Regions from separate parts of the Homo sapiens genome. Here regions 1 and 2 are each linked to region 3. The links come from fine-mapping of genetic effects on gene expression. A gene starts in region 3. Each other region holds a variant in brackets. All regions are shown on one strand. Distances are from middle to middle. Region 1 overlaps ITGA4 (integrin subunit alpha 4). Region 2 has its middle 29 kb from the start of ITPRID2. Region 3 holds the start of ITPRID2 (ITPR interacting domain containing 2).

Region 1 (2,768 bases), 350 kb after region 3:
TCCAAGACTTATCAGTCTTTATGGAGGAAGCATGGAAGAAATGATTCCAAAGTAACATGTAATTGTTTCTAAAAGAAATGTACAAACTAGAATTTTAATATAAAGAAATGTGGCCATGCTTTAAACCTGTGGTCCCCACCCTTTTTGGGACCAGTTTCATGGAAGACAATTTTTCCGTGGATGGGGGAATGGTTTCAGGATGAACTGTTCCACCTCAGATCATCAGGCATTAGATTCTCTTGAGGAACATGGCACTCTAGATCCCTCACATACCAGTTCACCATATGGTTCGCACTTCTATGAGAATCTAATGCTGCTGCTGATCTGACAGGGGGAGGAACTCAGTAATGCTCCATTGCTCTAACCTCCTGCTGTGTGGCCAAACGGATATCCTAATAGAAATTGATGTTACTAACAATTAGCCTCTAGGGCTTTAAAAGTCAAGATGAAATATCAATTCAAATTCTGTTTTTAGATATCAATTCAAATTCTTTTTTTTACAATGTGTTTATTGGACACACAAAAAAACTTTGCAACCATCATAATACATCAATATTTAACCTAGATAATTCTGAAATAATTTGGATTCTTTCATTTTTCAGGATTTGAGCTCATCAATTATGTTAAATTTCCTATATTCTGTTACAAATATAATACAGATTTCATAAGTCTGCCTTGATTCACTGCTCCCTAATCCAGAGCAGTTAAATTTCAAAATCACATAGTTATATAGCCTACCTGCCAAAAAAGAATAACCCATCCCTGTCTTCTTAAAGTGGTAGGGTTTTAAAATTCATGATACAAGTAACAAAGTAAGTTGATAACAAATACTATTTTGAACTGGGCAAAATCTAGCCCAATATGTAATTGTGTTCCCCTTGTATCTGAGAGGCCTGTGTTGGACAACCATAGTACTCTGCTTTCACTGTGCTCAGATAACCTGAAATATATAGTTGTTTCTGAGTAGTTCTGAGTAGGAAAGAACCAAATGTAAATTTCCTTAGAGACCATCCTGGAGAAGACAGTTCTAAATCGGGGCTTGATTTTTCATCTATGATCCTAGATGTTCTCCTGAAAGAATGACTAGCCTTTTTATAACGATACAAAGTTTTTTAAAAATACATAAATGTCATAAAGTTTATTCCTGTGTATACACACTCTGGGTTCAGGAGGTTTTGTGCTTACATTTCACTACTCAAATGCCTTCGCAAATCTCAGAACATTCCTCACCATCACTGCAGGCCTGTGAACAGATAACTTTCATCAATTAGGATGGCTGGCTAGTGGCAGGGACTTCATATAAAGAAATCTTTCCCAGAATTGTTTTTCCACATTGCCTTCTAATTTGATCACTCCCTATAACAGATGTTCAAAATTCGGCCACAGCTCTCTTATGAAGGCAGAGTCAGATAAAATGATATTCTGCAATTATCTAGATCATAAGCATAAAATAAATATTACAAAAATGATTGTATTTAAAGAAATTTTTTAAAATCCAGAAAGTCATTTAAAATAGAACCTCATATAGTATGAACAAACTATAAAAATATTTTACATTTCATGAAAATTTTGCTGTC[G/A]TCTCATTTATATTCACTGTATACAAATTGAATCAGTATCTTTCAGCTAAATTTATGAATTTAAATTTATGAATTTTGTTTCTTCGTTTCCATGTAAGGTAACACTTATACTTGTAAAGGGTAACAAAGAATTACATCCAAGGAAATAGTTGTGTGATAGTCAATATTTTACATAGTACATAATACATATGAAGTATAGGCCCCCTAGTCTTTGCACAGCTTTGATTTTAAAGTTATTAGTGAGGTATGGTTTCTGTATTTTCTAAATCAGCGTGTATCAGGTAAAGTGCAACACTCACAATCTTTTGTTTCAGAATATAACAAAAGATTTGAAGATTACTCCTGGGTATGCTTGATAAAGGTGTGTTATAGGAAGAATAGATAGGAAGAATGGTAAATATATACCTACATAAAAACACATGTATATATACAGAAAGAAAGATGGTGAAATCCATAATTATAAAAAAATAATTATCCAGAAGTAATTTCACTAAGCTCAAACCAGTGTACATGTTCAGTCTGAAGTTTGCCAGTTTGGCCTATAATACTATAATATTCATAGTCTGCTGAAAAAAAATGGTTGTTGGAACACAGCCCGTAGGAAATGTATTATAAATAAAGGGCTTTAAAGTGATAATGGTCCACTCGTTAGAAAATTTGGGAACAGCTCTCTAAAAAATTATATTTTTAAAGAACATATTTTGAACAAGTATCAAAGATGTATTTGAAATGAACCTCTGCCCACCCAGTGGGGTTCATTTTACTGAGGCAAGCACATATGGTAAGTAGTATTTCAAGTCTAAGACTTCTCCAGTATAATTTAACTCAGTTATACTTTCATTTCAAGATATCTTCAAGGGCTTACTTTTCTTGAATAAATTGAATGCTTTAGTGTTTCTCTACCCATTTAAAAGCTGAGAGATTATCTTTGGCTGTATTATTACCTTTGCAGTTCTTCTATCTCAAAGAGTAATCATTGCTGAGATTTTCCCCTTGCATGAAGACATAATATGTCACAAGATCATGAGTAAAAGAAGTCCAAACAAAATTCATTTTTTCTTGTAAACAGTGTCTTTTAAATTTCTTTACTACAACCTGAGTCTGTTTTCCATTCTCTCAATTTGAAAGAAGTCCTTAATCATCATTGCTTTTACTGTTGATATAACTCCAACTGTCTCTTCTGTTTTCTTC
Region 2 (2,768 bases), 28 kb after region 3:
TTGATTAATATTTTAAGGCTGGGTGACCACAGCAATGATGATTATCATAAACAAAGATGAGGAATGCTGACTTGGGCCACAGGTGTGGAAAGTAGGGTACTGGAGAATAAGAGGAGGAATAATTTGACTACAGTCATGTTTCAAATAATGGCAGTATTTCAGCATCTTATGTTTTATAAACAAGAGCAAGATTTCTTTGACATAGAAATTAATATATTCTAAAACCCCAAAAGTCTTATTCTTGAATTCTCTTTCCTCTAAATAACTTCTAAATCATAAAAGATCATGAGTTACTGACTTTCTAAAAATAGTGGGAGCCAGGCACAGTGGCTCATACTTGTAATCTTAGCACTTTGGGAGGCTGAGATGGGAGGACTGCTTGAGCAGAGGAGTTTGAGACTAGCCTGGACCACATAGTGGGACCCTGTCTCTACAAAAAAAAAAATATATATATATATATAGAGAGAGAGAGAGAGAGCCAGGTGTGGTGGCACACGCCTGTATTCCCAGGTACTTGGGAGGCTGAGGTGGGAGGATCACTTGAGCATGGGAGGTTGAGGCTGCATGGAGCCATGATTGTGCCACCATACTCCAGCCTGGGTGGCAGAGTGAGACCCTGTTTCAAAAAAGTAAAAATAAAAATAGGATATCTAATTTAGTCCTATTCAAAATTGTGGATGCCTTCTAAGCATTCAGCAAGAATTGATACACATCATATACCACTTCTTTCTTGAAAGGACATATTAAAAAAAAATTTCTCAAATACTTCATTGTACCTAAAATAATCCTTTCATAATATATCTCCTGTCTATTGAATAAATTAGTTAATAATAAGTTAGTTTTAAACTATATAAAAGTGATCAAAGATGTAAATTGTGGAGCTATCCACATATTAGTGACAATTGCAGTTCAGAAAACGCTAAGGGAGCGAGATCCAATACAGAAGACCAAAAGATTTAGGAATATGTCTTGTAGTATGACTAAATTTAAGATATGGAAAGGAGAGCAGAGGCAGAAGGTTGTGTAATGTCACGGAAACAAGGAAGTGCAAACAATAAGCATGGACTATGGTGGTACATTCAATGGAAGATCTAGGAGAGAAAACCAGAAAATGTTGCTGCGTGTGTGTGCATTCTAGTGGAAAAGCCAAATGAGTAGGAGAGTAGTAAAATTGTTGGGTTTTGGCATTCGTCTCACAC[C/T]CACAATTTACAACATTTGTTTGGTTCACAAATGCAAGTAACTACAAATCAGCCCTCACCTTCATTCTGCACCCTGACTATGTATATAGTTTGCCTAAATTCTCAGTGCAGCTGACCATGTATCATTGTGCCAATCACAATTCAGAAACCTTTTTTTTGTTTGCCAGGTATTGTTTGAGCGTGAAAAAATAAAACCAAGTGACGCAAGTAGGCTTTCTGTGGCCGTATTGTTTGCTGAAGCTATGATTGGATAAAGTCCAGTAAAACCTTTAAGATAGGCTCAGATATAAATAAATAAGCAATGTGTATTTTGAAAGAAACTTGTGGAAGAGTCACATGATTCCATAGCTTTAATTGACCTTAGATATCAAAGCTCAGCCCCTCATTTGCAAAGAAAAATTTTAAGGCCAATAGGGGTTAAATGACCTGCTCAAGCTCACTAAACTAGTTATTGACAAAGCTAATAGAACCAGAAGCCAGTGGAATTCTTATTCCCACATTCCCACTCCATTGTTCATTTTATATGCCATTCCACCTTCAAATGAATTCACAAAACTCCCAGATGCCAACAGTTTTAGCTCAGAAAACAGACATACCCAATCTAGTGGGTACCCAATCTATAGACCAATCTAGTGACAATATAAAAGTACCTTTACTCTGAGACATTCTGAAATTAACATTCACTACAATTCCAAACTGAGTTTTGAGAAGTAAAATTTTAATCAAATATTTAATATCAGCTGTTAAGCAAATTGGTTCAGTTGAAGAACTTCCCAGATTTTATCTAGCTGTTGTTTAGTTTCTCAGGTTAGAAATGAGAAAACACTTTGATAACCTTTCCTATTAGGACTTTGAAAAGGTTTTTATGATAATAAAATTCACATTTAAGAACAGGGACATTTTTTGAAGACATATAATTTTGCAGTGAAACAATATAGATAACACTAGCTCAGCTCTTGTTAGGTAAGGCCAGTTAACATTTTCTCTCTGTTTCTTTCCCTCTCCTCCTCTGACTCTGCCCTTGATGAGTAAAACGATCCCCTAGAGATATTAAAATATGGGACGATATTATTAACTGTTTTAAATCCTGGTGGTCAGTCTGTCATCCCGTGTAAAGATACTTGCTGCTTATGGTAGGAATAGCATATGATGTGAGTTTATTTGGTTTGATCAGTATTTACAGTTAAGACATCATTGTGTTTTTTGCAAGACAATTTCATTTCGGCCCTAACTAACATTAACAACACCTTAGCAAAACAATCCAAAGTAACCCAAATCACACACACACAAACACACTCCAGCCTTTTTGCAACTGCCAGGTACCTGCAGACAAACAAAAATGGTCACCAGATACTCATTACATCCTTAAAGATTCATCTTTTAGGCCTATATGAACAGAGAAAAGACCATATAAGTACTATAATATACTAACAGATAATGTAATTTAGAATAAGAGCTAATTTATTTTCCCCAATTTTTTTTTAAGAACTGCTAAGGTTTTCTGCAGTTCATTTCTTAGGTGGTTGTGAGGTTGCCCAGACTAAGACAAAATGCACAGGAGTCTAACTA
Region 3 (2,768 bases):
CTCTGATGCTAACACGATGCGTGAGTAGCTCAAGTCCTAACTGTAAAGTCAACACGGTCACCAAATAATCAGCGGTCACAGCACTTCCATTTCTAATCGCTTAGAGGAGGAAGCTATCCGCCGGCTCACTTTCCGGTTTGTAGCTTACAACGGTCGCGGGACCCACAGGGACGCGGCCCGAGTGGCTCTGCTCCGGCGTCCCGTCCGCACGGATCTCCCCCGGGACGCGGGCGGACCAGGGAGCACTCACCGGCAGTCCTTGAGCCATATCGCGATCTTCTCGTTGGGCACGTTTCCTGGGGGTAGAGAGAGGGGACAGCACGTTACCACCCAGGAGCACTACGACGGCGGAGTCACCCTGGACCCTCCCAAGTAGGAAAATCTACCACGGCAAATGCAGCCTAAGCGACACGTCTCAGTGTCCCTTGGCAGGGAAATCGGATGGCACCCAGTTGTCTGTGTTGACGCTGGGGGCGCCTCGTTCAGCGCGCGCGTTTGAAGGTCGGAAGTGTCCCCTCTCCCCTCGGCCTACCGTGCCCGAGGCTCTCCCAGAACTCGTGGCAGGCGCCCAGGGCGCACGAGACTCTCCCCAGCCCACCAGCCTCCCCCCGGAGCCCGGCCGGGAGCACCGACCTCTTCCCCCCGCTGCCGGCAGCTGCGCGCCGGGGAGGTCCTCCTCCTCGTCCTCCTCCTCGTCCTGCGTCGTCGCTTCTGTGGACAGATCCTCCGTCTCCGACGCTTGCCAGGAGCTGCGGCACTTGGCCCAGGCCTTCCTCCTGCGACTCGCCACTTGCCACTCCAGTTCCTCCTCCGCCTCCGCCGACGACGACAGGGGCCGGTCCATGGCCGCACTGGGGGCTCCGCTACCCCAGCCGGACCCTGCGCGAGACAAGGCGGCGGCAGGGACCCCCGCCCTTGCTGTCAGCGCCCGGCCGGGCAGGGGGCCCCGGGGAGCTGAAGCGGGCGCCGGAGGAGGAGGAGGAGGAGGAGGGGACAGGGAGGGAGGGAGGGAAGGAAGGGGAGGGAAGGGGCGGAGGGCCGGCGCTTCACATGAAGGCGGCCGGGCGCGCGCGGGAGCGCTAGTGGCCCGAGGGAGCGCGGCTGGGAGCCGAGCGCCCGCCCGGCCCCTGCTCCCCACCCCCTGCCTGACGCGCCCGGAGCAGGCCGGCCGCTGCGCGTCTGCGCGCCTTCCCTCGGCGGCGGCCCACGCCCCCTTCCGGCCGGGGCCGCGCGGGGCGCGGTAGGGCGGGGCGCGCCCGGCGCGACGCGGAGCAGGCCAGCCCCCGACTACTGCCCGCGGAATGGGCAAGATTAGTTTGTTAATAATCTTTCCTCCTCTCCTCCTCCTCCTCCCTCACCTAAAAATAGAACGTAAGTGGGGAGGCCAAGTCTCACAAAACATCCCCCGCGAGAAAACAAGTGTCTGCTTGGGCACCCTGAAACATACACTTGAAAGAGTCGCCTGAATATAGACTCTTTAGTGTCCAAGGAATTGGGGTAAGGACGGAAAGAGGTGCTTGATTGGTGTTGCCAAAATGTAAAAACTGCAAAAGACTAAGCTTCCTGGAGTGCTACTTTCATACTTAAAGTTATTTATCGTGTTTATGTTATGAATGAAAATGAATTGTGAAAGGATATTTAATCTGGAAATTTCACATTGAAGTTGGACTTTGGTGAGGGAGAATAGAGGAAACAATTGGGACAATGTGGAGATAGTTGCTTGGATTTTGGTGAGACAGCATGATACAAGAAACAAATGATGTCAGGGTTCAAAACTTTTTAAAGCCAGCTTTGGCATTCCGTTTTGTTATGTTTAAATTCTCATTAGCAAAAATACTCAAATTCTATCCAAAACCAGACACAATGTGACAGACCTATCAAGCAGCATTGTTCCCCTAAATGTTACATCTGAACTATACATATAAGTAAGGCTTCCAATATTTTATTGTACTTGGCTATGCTCTGAAGAACAAGTTAGAACACTTTTTAAAATCTTAACGTGATTGAAAAGAATATTTTGCGTAGACAAAATATTTTAAGGAAGGAATTATTTTTCATTTGAAATTAAAATCCAGAGCATAGTAAAATTCCTAATGGAAGCATTCGAATTACAAGGTAATTAAGTGCATTGTCATTGATAGCTACAGGAAACCATAACTTTTGGAGAATTTGGAATGAAGAATGCTCTGGAGATGAAATAGTGCCTAGTTTTTGTCCAGGCATTTACACATAAGTCATAGACTACTAAAATAGCACACTGATTTTCCTGCCTTCATTCTTTCCTATCTCCTTTCTAGCGCATTGCTCTAGATTTACAATTCCAAGACATCTTCTAATGGTTTACTAATATCCCCAAGATCAAATCCAAAATCCAGACTAGCTTTCCAGAACCATCATAATATTCTCCTGAGTCTCATCTATGTACTGCCAAATGTCAGGGGAGTTAGAACAGTGATATTAATATCTCTATGGCTTGAAATTTCACTACTAGAAAATCTTTTCTTTGAACCTATAAGACTTTCTCAGCCTTCAAGGGTCCTGTAGTAGGATGCAGCTAACAGTTTAATGGCTCTCCAAAATAGGTCAGAGTCTCGCTGCCTGTGTGGAAGATGAAAAAGAGAATGAATAAAGAAGGTACCTAAGAAGAAGCATTGAAAGGGCTGGTCAAGTGCCACAAAATATGCTGCCTTCAAAGTTTTATCCAGGGTTCTTACGTATCCACCCTGTTCCTCTGCTGCTCCCAGCTTCAATTCTATCATATCTAAGTG

What was found.
Region 1: its variant is fine-mapped to the expression of ITPRID2 in tibial artery (GTEx, PIP 0.95).
Region 2: its variant is fine-mapped to the expression of ITPRID2 in whole blood (TOPMed, PIP 0.97).

The regions. Positions count from the first base shown.
Region 1 is chr2:181,535,471-181,538,238 of GRCh38, reverse strand. ITGA4 (integrin subunit alpha 4) reads right to left here. Exons shown (of 28, transcript NM_000885.6): 28 at 1-2,768. The coding sequence ends at 2,712. It overlaps CERKL (CERK like autophagy regulator), which reads left to right. Exons shown (of 13, transcript NM_201548.5): 13 at 1-1,567. The coding sequence ends at 55. Among named protein-coding and RNA genes, the nearest start is that of ITGA4, 79 kb to the right of the region's middle. The variant G/A (reference allele first, on the strand shown) is at 1,578.
Region 2 is chr2:181,861,676-181,864,443 of GRCh38, reverse strand. No RefSeq gene overlaps it. Among named protein-coding and RNA genes, the nearest start is that of ITPRID2, 29 kb to the left of the region's middle. The variant C/T (reference allele first, on the strand shown) is at 1,200.
Region 3 is chr2:181,890,143-181,892,910 of GRCh38, reverse strand. It overlaps ITPRID2 (ITPR interacting domain containing 2), which reads right to left and starts at 1,181. Exons shown (of 18, transcript NM_001130445.3): 1 at 634-1,181; 2 at 251-296. The coding sequence starts at 844. RefSeq lists silencers at 545-684, 975-1,304.